Homo sapiens: one gene and its partners. The protein of the gene in region 2 binds, or shares a complex with, the protein of the main gene of each other region. Each region holds a gene or a part of one and is shown on either strand. Other genes may lie near its edges.

The links.
Region 1: STRN3 (region 2) and STRIP2 share a complex: the UniProt entries of both Homo sapiens proteins name them as parts of the core of STRIPAK complex.
Region 3: STRN3 (region 2) and PDCD10 share a complex: the UniProt entries of both Homo sapiens proteins name them as parts of the core of STRIPAK complex.

Annotation. Positions count from the first base shown.
Region 1 is NC_000007.14:129,454,817-129,458,470, reverse strand, and holds part of STRIP2 (striatin-interacting protein 2), read right to left. Parts: intron 3,228-3,654; coding exon 3,100-3,227; intron 2,033-3,099; coding exon 1,829-2,032; intron 1,772-1,828; exon of another isoform or gene 1,459-1,771; intron 649-1,458; exon of another isoform or gene 389-648; coding exon of another isoform or gene 257-388; coding exon 21-256; intron 1-20. UniProt on the Homo sapiens protein: Plays a role in the regulation of cell morphology and cytoskeletal organization. Required in the control of cell shape. Calmodulin-binding scaffolding protein which is the center of the striatin-interacting phosphatase and kinase (STRIPAK) complexes.
Region 2 is NC_000014.9:31,019,850-31,023,503, reverse strand, and holds part of STRN3 (striatin-3), read left to right. Parts: intron 1-3,654. UniProt on the Homo sapiens protein: Calmodulin-binding scaffolding protein which is the center of the striatin-interacting phosphatase and kinase (STRIPAK) complexes.
Region 3 is NC_000003.12:167,686,297-167,689,950, forward strand, and holds part of PDCD10 (programmed cell death protein 10), read right to left. Parts: intron 1,398-3,654; coding exon 1,319-1,397; intron 1,021-1,318; coding exon 938-1,020; intron 1-937. UniProt on the Homo sapiens protein: Promotes cell proliferation. Modulates apoptotic pathways. Increases mitogen-activated protein kinase activity and STK26 activity. Important for cell migration, and for normal structure and assembly of the Golgi complex.

The DNA of each region.
Region 1 (3,654 bases), on a different chromosome or scaffold from region 2:
CCTGATGCTATCAAACCTACCTGACCTTTGGGGCCCAGGGCAGGCCCTTGGGAAAAGCCACCCGCTCAGCAGAGAGGGGTGCCTGTGAGGGTGGAGGTGGCACCAGAGGGTCCTGCTCTAGCAGGTCTAGCTCTCCATCCAAGGTTCGTTCTCCATCACCAGCAGACTCCTCTTCCTCCTCTGTGGCGGGCTCCTCAGTCTTGAAGAGATCCCTTTCATTGTAGATGTCCAGGCTGTCCTGCTTAGTGAGGAGTTGCTGGAGGGGAAAGAAGGGAGGGTAGGCATGCAGAGATCTCACTCTGGGCATCCTTGTCTGAGGCCACCCCATATCCACAGGCCTCCACATTTCAGGGAACATGGAATCTGAACACAGCCCTTGCGAAAACATCCAATTCCCCACCTTAACCTACTGTCCCCACCCGGCCCAATAACAGGACAAGAAGTTCTCAGGTAACCCTGCCATTAGCCAGGGAACATAGCATAGATAATCCCAAAGTCACAATTACTTAGCTTTCAGAAAGCAGTGATGCCTTTTTTTGCCAGCACTTTCCTTCCTAATTATGCTCTGCTTAGGTGAACATTCAATTAGTTTGCCTTCTGTGAGCATACACCAGCTGGCTGACTGAGGAAGAGGAGGACAGAAGCTTGCTGCTAGGCAGAGGGAAGCAAGTTTGGAATTTTAAATCTTGTGACAAAGAAAAAAAGATTGGACAGAAATAGGCCAAAAAGTTAACAGTGACTGTCTCTGGTTGTTAAGATTGTGGGTGATTTTTCTTTTCTCCCTTCATCACATTTTTATATTTGTTCCAAATTTTCTACAATGAGTAAGCATTACTTTATAAAACAAAAATAAAGTTAAAAAATTTTATTGCAGATAATGGAGACTGGATTACTGAGCACTACTATCTAGCCCTGTTGATAAACTGAAGTGGGTCAGGCAGGGGAGTTTGTAAGAACATAGTCAGATCTCAGTATAACTTTTCATTCTGACCTTTTCAGGACAGCAGACTATAGTCATGTGCTGCACAACGATGCTTCAGTCAACAATGGACTGCATATGTAATTGTGGACCCATAAGATTATAATACTGTATTTTTATTGGCCTTTTCTAGGTTGAGATACACAAACACCATTGGGTTACAATTGCATATGGTGTTCGGTATAGTAACCTGCTGTACAGGTTTGTAGTCTAGGAACAATAGGCTATATGCCTAGGTGTGCAGTAGGCTATACCATCTGGGTTTGTGTAAGTACACTCTATGATGTTTGCTCAGTGACAAAATTGCATAATGACACATTTTTCAGATTGTATCCCTGTCGTTTAGTGTCACATGGTTATATACATAGACCCCTACCCAGTCATCTCTTAAATGTAAGCCTTTGGTTCCAGGGCCAGTTAAGAGTGTGGCTGGCTGACAGTAAAACTTCCTGGTGCTTCAAAATAGTAAAATGCCTTACCCCAGAAAAATGGATTTGCTTGGAGACCTGTTCCGGTATCCTGGGTCCCTATCCCCAGGATTATACCCTTAATTGTTATTCAGAATGTAAGGAACTCCAGGCACTGAGGTCCAGGCCAATGATTCTGTAGCAAGACATGGCTATATATGACATGATATCACAGTGTCACATCACAACAGCGCAGGGGGCTGTCAGGGCTGGGGGACAGAGGCCAAACTAGAGACCCTAAGATTTCAGGTTGGTCATAGGGCCAACCTGGGCAGGATGAGCCGGGTCATTTACTGCTTTTTCCTACCACACCCAGAGTAACTTAGAATCTTGATTTTTGGCCAGTCGGTGTCCCAATACCATTGTCTGCTTCAGTCCATACCCTTCGAGAGCCACGGCGGCCTCGCAGCTTGGAGGGTGGGGGTGCCAGCTGAGACTCTCCCAGGTCAAGAGTGTAAGAGGGCGGGGAGGCAGCACGCATGCTCTTCACCACCTGGATACTGTCTTCAGCCAGTGGAGGCAGGCCCAATTCTGCCCGCTTCTGTACTTTGAGAGTCTGCAGATGCTCAAATCCACCGAGGGTAAACTAAGGAAGAAACAGGAAAGGGGCAGAGAGAGAGGAAGGAAGGGAAGTAAGAGAGAGCCAAGGTCAGGGAAACATGGATGAAAAGAAAGGGCCACAACCTCCAGTCCCTTCAGACCTTTTCCTTAATAAGGAGGTAGTAAAACATAAAGAGGCAAATATGATTACCATCCCCACGGCAACTGAGGAGCTCAGGGGTCAGGATAAGGCATTATTTACTGCCCCAGTATGGGAAATATCACAGAATTTAGGAAAGGAATTCCTGCGGGCCTCCTCAAAAAAAAAAAAAAAGAAAAAAAAGAAACTATCGACTTTTTTAAGGAACACCATCCAGGTGCTATAAACCCCCAGAGTCACTCAATTTCCTCTGCAGTCAAGAGGCAGTTCCCCCTATTAGGCCTGCCTTGTGAGATGGGAGCCAAAAATGAAGGATCAGGTTGAATAACTAGTAACAGAAATGTAACCACATATTTATAAGAACTTCATTATTTTTTAAAAAGCAAATCCTGGCCAGGCACAATGGCTCATGCCTGTAATCCCAACATTTTGGGAAGCCAAGGTGAAAGGATTGCTTGAGACCAGGAGTTCAAGACCAGCCCAGGCAACACAGGGAGGCCTGTCTGTAAGAAAAAATTATTTTTATTAAAAAAAAAATACAAAACCTCTGTTTATCTGGAGGGAGGGCAGGCACTCACCCCAACCTTTTACAGCTAGAGAAATTGAGGCACAGAGAGTTGCCCAAAGTTTCTCAGTATCAGCAAAGCCCAGATCTACCAACTTTCAACCAGTGTTCTCTCCATCAAACATTGGCTTTAATAAGAGAAGGTACCACTGACATCCCCAATTTATGGAGTGGCATCTCCCATCCATCCAATAGAAACATGAAACCCATTCTAACATAGAACATCTGATGTCTCTAGGACAGCCTTGTTGCCCCTCCATATTAGCAGTTGGCTAAGGGCTGCCTGTTCTGCTCCCTGGATCCAGCCTCCTGGAATGAGACTAGAAGAAACTGAGGTGGCATAGGGCATTGCTGATCTGATAATGTGGGAGTGGGGAGAATTACTCACCATGACCACCTTCCAGAGCAGGAGCAGGACCTTCTTTATGGGGAAGTGAGGAGCCAGGCCACTGCAGAACTTGGTAACCATGGAGAAGAGTAAAAGGGCAAAAGGCTCCTCATTATGCATGGAGAAGCCTAGGGGTGAGGAGAGAGGGGAGTGAGAAAGTGAGGATGAGGCAGCTAAAACCTTTTTCATGTAACCCTGATTCTGGACACACACAGGAAGGCACTCACCTCCCCTGAAGAATACCAGAGTACTTGGTCCTGAGAAGGAGGCTTAGCCCCCAGAAGGAAGCCCCTCAAGGGCAGGAAGGGACGCCATGGAATTAAAATGGCATAGGCCCCAGAGCTTAGGGTGACGCTTTGGGGTTGGATGCCAAACTAGAAGTAACAATAATGAAGACATTGCTTTCTGGCTAAAGGACTCAATGTCATTCACTTTTCCACATCAATAAATATATTTTTAAAATCCCATAGTCCTTCATATCCTATCCCTGTCAGATGACAACACCAACTTACATTTGAACAGAACTCAGTTTTCAAGGTGATTCAACTCATTTTT
Region 2 (3,654 bases):
ATGTAAAATTTTAATGGGGAATAATATTTTCCCTGGCTTTGGGAAAGATATTAAAAGGAACTTTACAGTATGATTCTGTTCTCTGTAAAAAGAATTTAGAGTAAAGGTCTGTCTTAGAAACTTGGAACCAAACTAAAGGATCACATCTTAAAGCTCTTCTGTCTCTGATTCTTCCTTACCTTAGACTCAGGTAAAGCATTGTTAGTAAGGTCATAGGACAGTGGTTTCTTAACTTTTATATAACATGAATTACCAAAATTCCACAGACAGTCCATTTTCTTCAAGCCCTAGATCAATCCAGATCTCCAGAGGATAAGAGGCCTGCATATTTTTTAGAGTTCTACAAGTGATTCTTTCTTCACAGTAGTGCCTGTTAAAGAGAAAAATTACTACACTACACTTTTCTTTTTTGTAATTTCATAGTAGATTCATTAAAATCTTGTCATGGAAAAGACACTAGGATTTGCAAATTACTATTCCAGACCAGCTTTTGAAAACCCTGAAAATGGAAAATTCAGGAGATTCCCCCCTTAAAAATGAAGAAATCAAGTAAGTCTAAGCAAAATATCTCCTACTAACTTAAGGATCTTTAAGCAGCAACATCTATCATGTTACGACTTCTAAAAGTTAGAAACTGCCATTTAATCAGCACTATAACCTCATGAGGTGAGTATTCCTGTTTTACAGGTGAGGAGACAAATTTAGGTAGGTTAAATCATTTTGCCAAGGTCACCTAGCCATAAAGTATTGCAGCTGAGATTTGAACCCAAGTCTGTCTGATTCCAAAGCCTGTAGTCATGTTACCACTCTTGTAACCATTATGTTATACTGTCTTAGCTCTTTTTTATAGAGTGGAATCTGACTTGTAATTCTTCATCTAGTATTGCGTGGCCCACACCACTTGAGTACATTTCAATAAAGTTTTATTGAGCGCCTGTGATGCTGCTGCAAGGCATAGTTTATATATATTGCTAATGTGTCCTTATATTTTTCTTTATAGTTTGTATGTAGTAAGTGGATTTTGGGTATATACAAAATGCTTGTTTGCCAAGTGTAAAAATATGACATAGCTAATACAAGAAAATGTAGTCAAAGAGTTTATGTTCTTTTTTTTTTTTTTTGAGATGGAGTCTCGCTCTACTGTCGCCCAGGCTGGAGTGCAGTGGCACCATCTTGGCTCACTGCAAGCTCTGCCTCCCAGGTTCACGGCATTCTCCTGCCTCAGCCTCCCCAGTAGCTGGGACTACAGGTGCCTGCCACCACGCCCAGCTAATTTTTTTGTATTTTTAGTAGAAATGGGGTTTCACCGTGTTAGCCAGGATGGTCTTGATCTCCTGACCTCGTGATCTGCACACCTTGGCCTCCCAAAGTGCTGGGATTACAGGCGTGAACCACCGCGCCCGGCCGACAGTGATTTTTCATAAAGGTGTTCCCTTTGTTCTGGGATTTTTAGCCTTCATACATTTTTACTGTTAGGCATTTCCTTTTTCAGATGATGGTGATAATAGTTAAAAAAATTTTATTGATAGTATTAAGGGAGTCCACTACCTTGTGTCAGATTCCCTGTTTCTTTTTGAAGCCCTTGAAATGAAGTTTAGGGACCACTGATCTAGAATTCTCTTTATGCTCCTCCACTACCCATTAACCCCACTCTGTAGTCTGCCTTTTCGCTTTCTTCTCTCCTCCCTTCTAAACACTTCGTAGAACACTATGTTTTCTGTTCATGATTGACCTTCAAATTGCCAAATCCTTTGGCCTTATAAACCGTATGTACTTAACCAACACTCTGTTGTTAACAAATCCTTCAAAACTGTTTTCTTTTGCTTCCGCTCTGTTTTTCCTGTCATCCACTTATCACTTTTCTTCATATGTTTTCTTTCTTTTGTTCCCAGTTGTTATTATGTGGGGTTCTGGTTCTATTTTATGTTCTCACTGTATATTCAGAATCAGATTTTTAGCTACCATGTACCATCTTAATAATACCTAGCATTTATTTACTCTTTCCTAATTGTTATTTCAGTGCTTCAGTATTTCAGTATTCATTTAATTCATTCAGTATTCATTTAATTCTCAAAACAACTCAGTGAGGTTGATACAGGTATAATTGGTGTCTTTTTTTTATTTTTTCTGACACTGGCATATCGAGGCCCAAAGGTTAAGTAATCTATGCAACTAGGAGGCAGTAGAACTGGGATTTAAACTTAGACTGCCTGTAGAGGCCATGTTCTTAACCACTACTAGATTTTTGGCGTCCAGATGTCCCTTGTATTTCTAACTTCCGTTTAGTTTTTCTACCTCAAATTCAATACATCCATTCAGTTAATCTCAAGTGCCTGCCTCTTTCCCTTGACAAAACACACTTGCTCATTCTTTATTCCTTGCCACATTAAAGTTAACACTATCCTCCCCATCGCTAGTACTATAGAGGTCATTGAACCTTCCCCCTGCGTATGGCCTGTGAGTTTTATTGATTCCAGCATGATTATTTGGTGATATTTGAGTGCGATTTTGTGCTAGATCCTGGGTGTATAATGATGTATGAGACACAGACTTTGTCCTCAGGGAGCTTATACTCTAGAAATAATTTTTTTTTTTTTCAAGAGAGCGTCCTACTCTGTTGCCGAGGCTGGAGTGCAGTGGTGCCAACATGGCTTACTGTAGCCTCAGGCTCCCGAGCTCAACTGATCCTCCTGCTGCAGCCTCCCGAGTAGGTGGGACTACAGACATGGACTATCACACCAAGCTGTTTTTATTTTTAGTTCAGGTGGGTTCTCAGTTTGTTGCCCAGGCTGGTCTTGAACTCCTGGGCTCAAATGATTCTCCCACCTCATCCTCCCAAAGTCCAAGTATTGGGATTACAGGCATGAGCCATCATGCCTGGCCAATAAAATGTTACAACAAATTAGCAGAATGCTGAGAGAATAAATGGTGATAGGAAACCTGTATATGTAATGGAGTTTCAGATAATACCTAATATTTATTGAGCACTTTCTTTTTTTTTTTTTAGAGACAGTTTTCGCTCTGTCACTCAGGCTGGAGTACAGTGGTGCTATCTCAACTCACTGCAACCTCCACTTCCTGGGTTCAGGCAGTTCTCATGCCTCAGTCTTCTGAGTAGCTGGAATTACAAGCACCCACCAACACGCCCAGCTAATTTTTGTATTTTTTGTAGAGATGGAGTTTCACCATGTTGGCCAGGCTGGTCTTGAACTCCTGACCTCAAGTAATCCGCCTGCCTTGGCCTCCCAAAGTGCTAGGATTACAGGCATGAGCCACTGCGCCTGACCTATTGAACACTTTCTATATGGTTGACATTATTTTTGGTTCTTCAGTACATTTAATTCTCATAAAGTTCCTAAATGTATACTTCTAGATCTGAAGTATCGGGAATACCTAATTGTACAAAGAACATGCCAGTTGGAAGCTACAGCATTTAGCAGAAGTTCTAAAGTAGGAAAGAGCTTCATTTAAACTGTGAACTGGCCAGGTGTGGTGTCTCACGCTTGTAATCCCAGCGCTTTGGGAGGTTGAAATGGGAGGATCACTTGAGCCCAGGAGTTGGAGACCAGCCTGGGCAACAGTGAGACCCTGTATCTAAAAAAGAAAAAAAAAAAAAAGAAAATGAGTGAACTGGACTATAATGATTCAAAAGGC
Region 3 (3,654 bases), on a different chromosome or scaffold from region 2:
ATAAATTAAAAAATAATGTCCAATTTACATTTTAGTATATTTCCTATTTTATAGAATGATGCTGTGAAAGCCTCTTTCCAGGAGAGTGGGTCAAAACCCTTACAGCACTTTAAAAACATCTGGGGCACTTTTACAAAATATCTAAACCCTGACTCCACTCCCAGCCAACTGAATCAGAATCTCTGCAGGTGGGGCCTAGGCAGTGGGAATTTTTTAAAAACTGTCCTCAAGTGACTCTAATGCACAGAAAGGATTGACAACTATTGCTTTAACTTTAGTGCAGTAGTTCTCAATAGACCTGTAATGTATCACCTGAAAATTTCTAAGAAATGCAAATTCTTAGGCTCCATCCTAGACCTACGAAATCAGAAATTCTAGAAGTGGGACCCTCGAGCAATTTGCAATTTGACTGTAACAAGTCCTCCAGATGACTCTGATGCCACTAAAGTTTGAGAACCACTGTTTCAGGAGTGTATAAAGTAGGCCAATGAACTAAAATTGCTTTTACATTTTTAAATGGTTAAAAAACAAAAGAAGAATATTATATGACAGGTAAAAATTATTTCAAGATACTGAAATTTGAATTTTGTATAAAGTTTTATTAAAACACAGTCACACCCCCTTGTTTGTACATTGTCTATGGCTTGTTTCTGTACTACAACAGCAGAGATGGGTGGATAACGGCAACAGGCCCACCAAATCTAACATATTTACTACCTGGCTCTTTTCAGAAAGCGTCTGATAACTCCTGTTCTAGAAAGGAGTTATGGCTAGATTAGCAACCATTCATTTTCTATTGTTAATGGTCTGCCTTCATTATCAGTTGCCTGGAGTACTAATAATAAAATAAAAGGGCTTAATTTATGTGGTTTTCATATCATATAAAACCACATAATCTATTTAATTTTAAAAGTAAAGGATAAATTACAGTACTTACTTGCCATCTTTAAAATACGTTTTCAGAGTATCACTGAAACTTTTGGAGTACTTTACAAATTCTTTCTTTTGGTGTTCAAGTGCCTACAGTCACAAAATATAATAAGAAATAAAGTACTAAATAAGAGAAATAATCACAAAAGCCAAAGGCAAGGACAAGAGATTACACAGGATATGGGATGCACTTTATATGAATATTACTAATAAGCAATTGTGGAGTACTCACTTTTAAATAAAAAGGCATATTTAAATTCAAGAATAAACTCAATGGTTAATGACACAAAACTATTTCCAACAATCAATCTTATTTTTAAGTCAATAAAACAACTAGGCATAAACCAACATCTAGGGTGTCAACTAGCAAGGCTTCTACTAAACGTACCCTGCGGTTCTGGTATTGATATTTCTTGAAGACATTATTCACTGTATCAAGAAGTTCTTTTATTGCACTAGCTATATCCCTGTTGGGAAAAGAATAAAGAATATCAGCTACATTTGAAAGAAATTTGTGAGAGAAAAGAACATCAGCTACATTTGAAAGAAATTAAGTACACTCTTAATCTAATCACAGTACACTCTTAATTATGTTAAGCGCAATCACTTCAAGAACAGCCAGCCTTTTCGGCTAGCTGGTTGGAGTGGGGATTTTAGCCTATACCCCTCTGTAATCCTGATTCTCTTGCACTGCTGACCAAAGGTTGCCAACCAAGACCAACTTTCTCAAATCAATCACATTTCATTAAGCGTTCCTTACTCAAATTTATAAAAAGATAAACATTACCTATGCCTGTCTTTTCCCATTTTAAAATTTTTCTTTGCTCTGGCTAATGTAGCTAAATTCAAGCTACCATGTTCTCTACTTTTGTTATTTGAACAAGGAACAATTTTATAATATTCTGCATTACATATAACTCAATTCTGTATTTAACAATGCTGTATGCTAGATACCTATTAGTTTTGATGTTTAACATAAAATATTTCCTCCTCAGAAAATATTCCTCTCCCCTGAGGAAATATTCTTCCTCCCTTACTCTTTTACAGACACTTTTAGCTTCTATCTAGCAGCCAAATATCCTCCTCTTTCAAACACTTACTATCAGTCACTATTCCCTTTGGAAAATATTTAAATTACTAGAGGAGACAACATCACAATATTCTTGCACTTTAACCTTCCCAGCAATCATCCTTTGACTATATATGCATCATCACCTCCCTCCCCTTTCTAAAGAAAAAAAAGAAGAAATGAATAATTCTCATTTGAGTTGACTGTTCTTCCTATCCATGCACCATTTTTTCTGAACTTTTTTTTGCCTTTCTAACTAGCCCCTTTTGATTTCCACATTTTAACCTCATAGCAATTTTTTTCCGCCAAATTGAACTTGATGTAATTCTGCATTCTCAAATAGTCTCACATTCTCTGCGACAAACCTTCTTTTTCACAGTCATTCTCTTAGCTGTTAGTCACAACAAAAACTTCAAATGCAATGCAACTGTGAAGAAATGAATAAGATGGAAATCTGCACCATCCTAAACATAACATTTTATTACTAATACTAATTACAAATGCCAGATTTCAGTTATTTCCTATCTAAAACATTTCAACATTCCTATTTCAAGGGGAAAAAAACCTCAGTGTCCAGGTTTCTGTGTGCATGTGGGTGTTTCCCAGCATATTTTTCAGTAAATAAGCTTGTAGAAATTTTAAGAATTAAAAGCATACAGAATTTTGATATTTTTTAAAAAAGTATTTTAGAGTACTCTGAAGTAGTAATTCCATTTTCATTGATTATTTCAATAATATTTTACTTATTACCTCTCTCAGGTCAAACACTGGTATTGGGCTGAAACATTGAAACATTACATATTCAAGTAGGACAGTAAGTCTTACATAAATGTTATCTAATTTTTTTTTGCCTCTGGTTTAGTAACAGCAGTTTTTAATTAGATAACTATTCCTTTCATTTATGGCTTAAGTTGAATCTTTGTATATTGGTGTGATGGACATAAACCCACTATTGTTTAATAAAATGCTGTCATAGGACTATTCTGTGAGAAAAATTACAATTTCAACAAATAAAACATGTCAAATCTCTAAATATGCAAGCTTCTCCAAATCCACAATGGAGTTATTTAAAATGGAATATAATGGAGCAAATTACATAGTGATCAGACAGAAGTTTATATAGTCTTACTTTGTAGTGTATTTCAATATTCTGCTAAAGAGGAATAAAATGTGTTTCCGGGGCTAGTCATCAAAATGAGCGTATGTTTCATATACAATAACAGTGGCTAGATTCTACAAGTCAAAAGAGTGGGTCTGAAACATGTTGCCTCATGCACCTAGGGAGACAAAAACACAGGGGAGAAGAAGGGAGGGTTTTGCTGGACAAAAAAAGAAAGACCTGCTGATAAATACTGGAAATCTCTATTTTAAAAGGGGGTGGGGGGAGGCGCAACTCCTCAGGTGACTGCTGATGAGTCAGGTTTGAAAACTTGGAGCTAAGGTTTAATGCCTTATTGGAACAGAGCTCTCTGTCAACCAAGGCCATTTATTCCTAAGCCTCTGTTTGGACACGAGGCAAAAGACTGTTAAATGCCTACCAAATTGTAGAAAAAATGTTCTCTAGAAACAATCTGCAGCAATGTATGTCAAATATTATGTTATCCATATGTACACAGAAAAGTATTTTCATTTATGGCACCAAGGTGTGCACATAG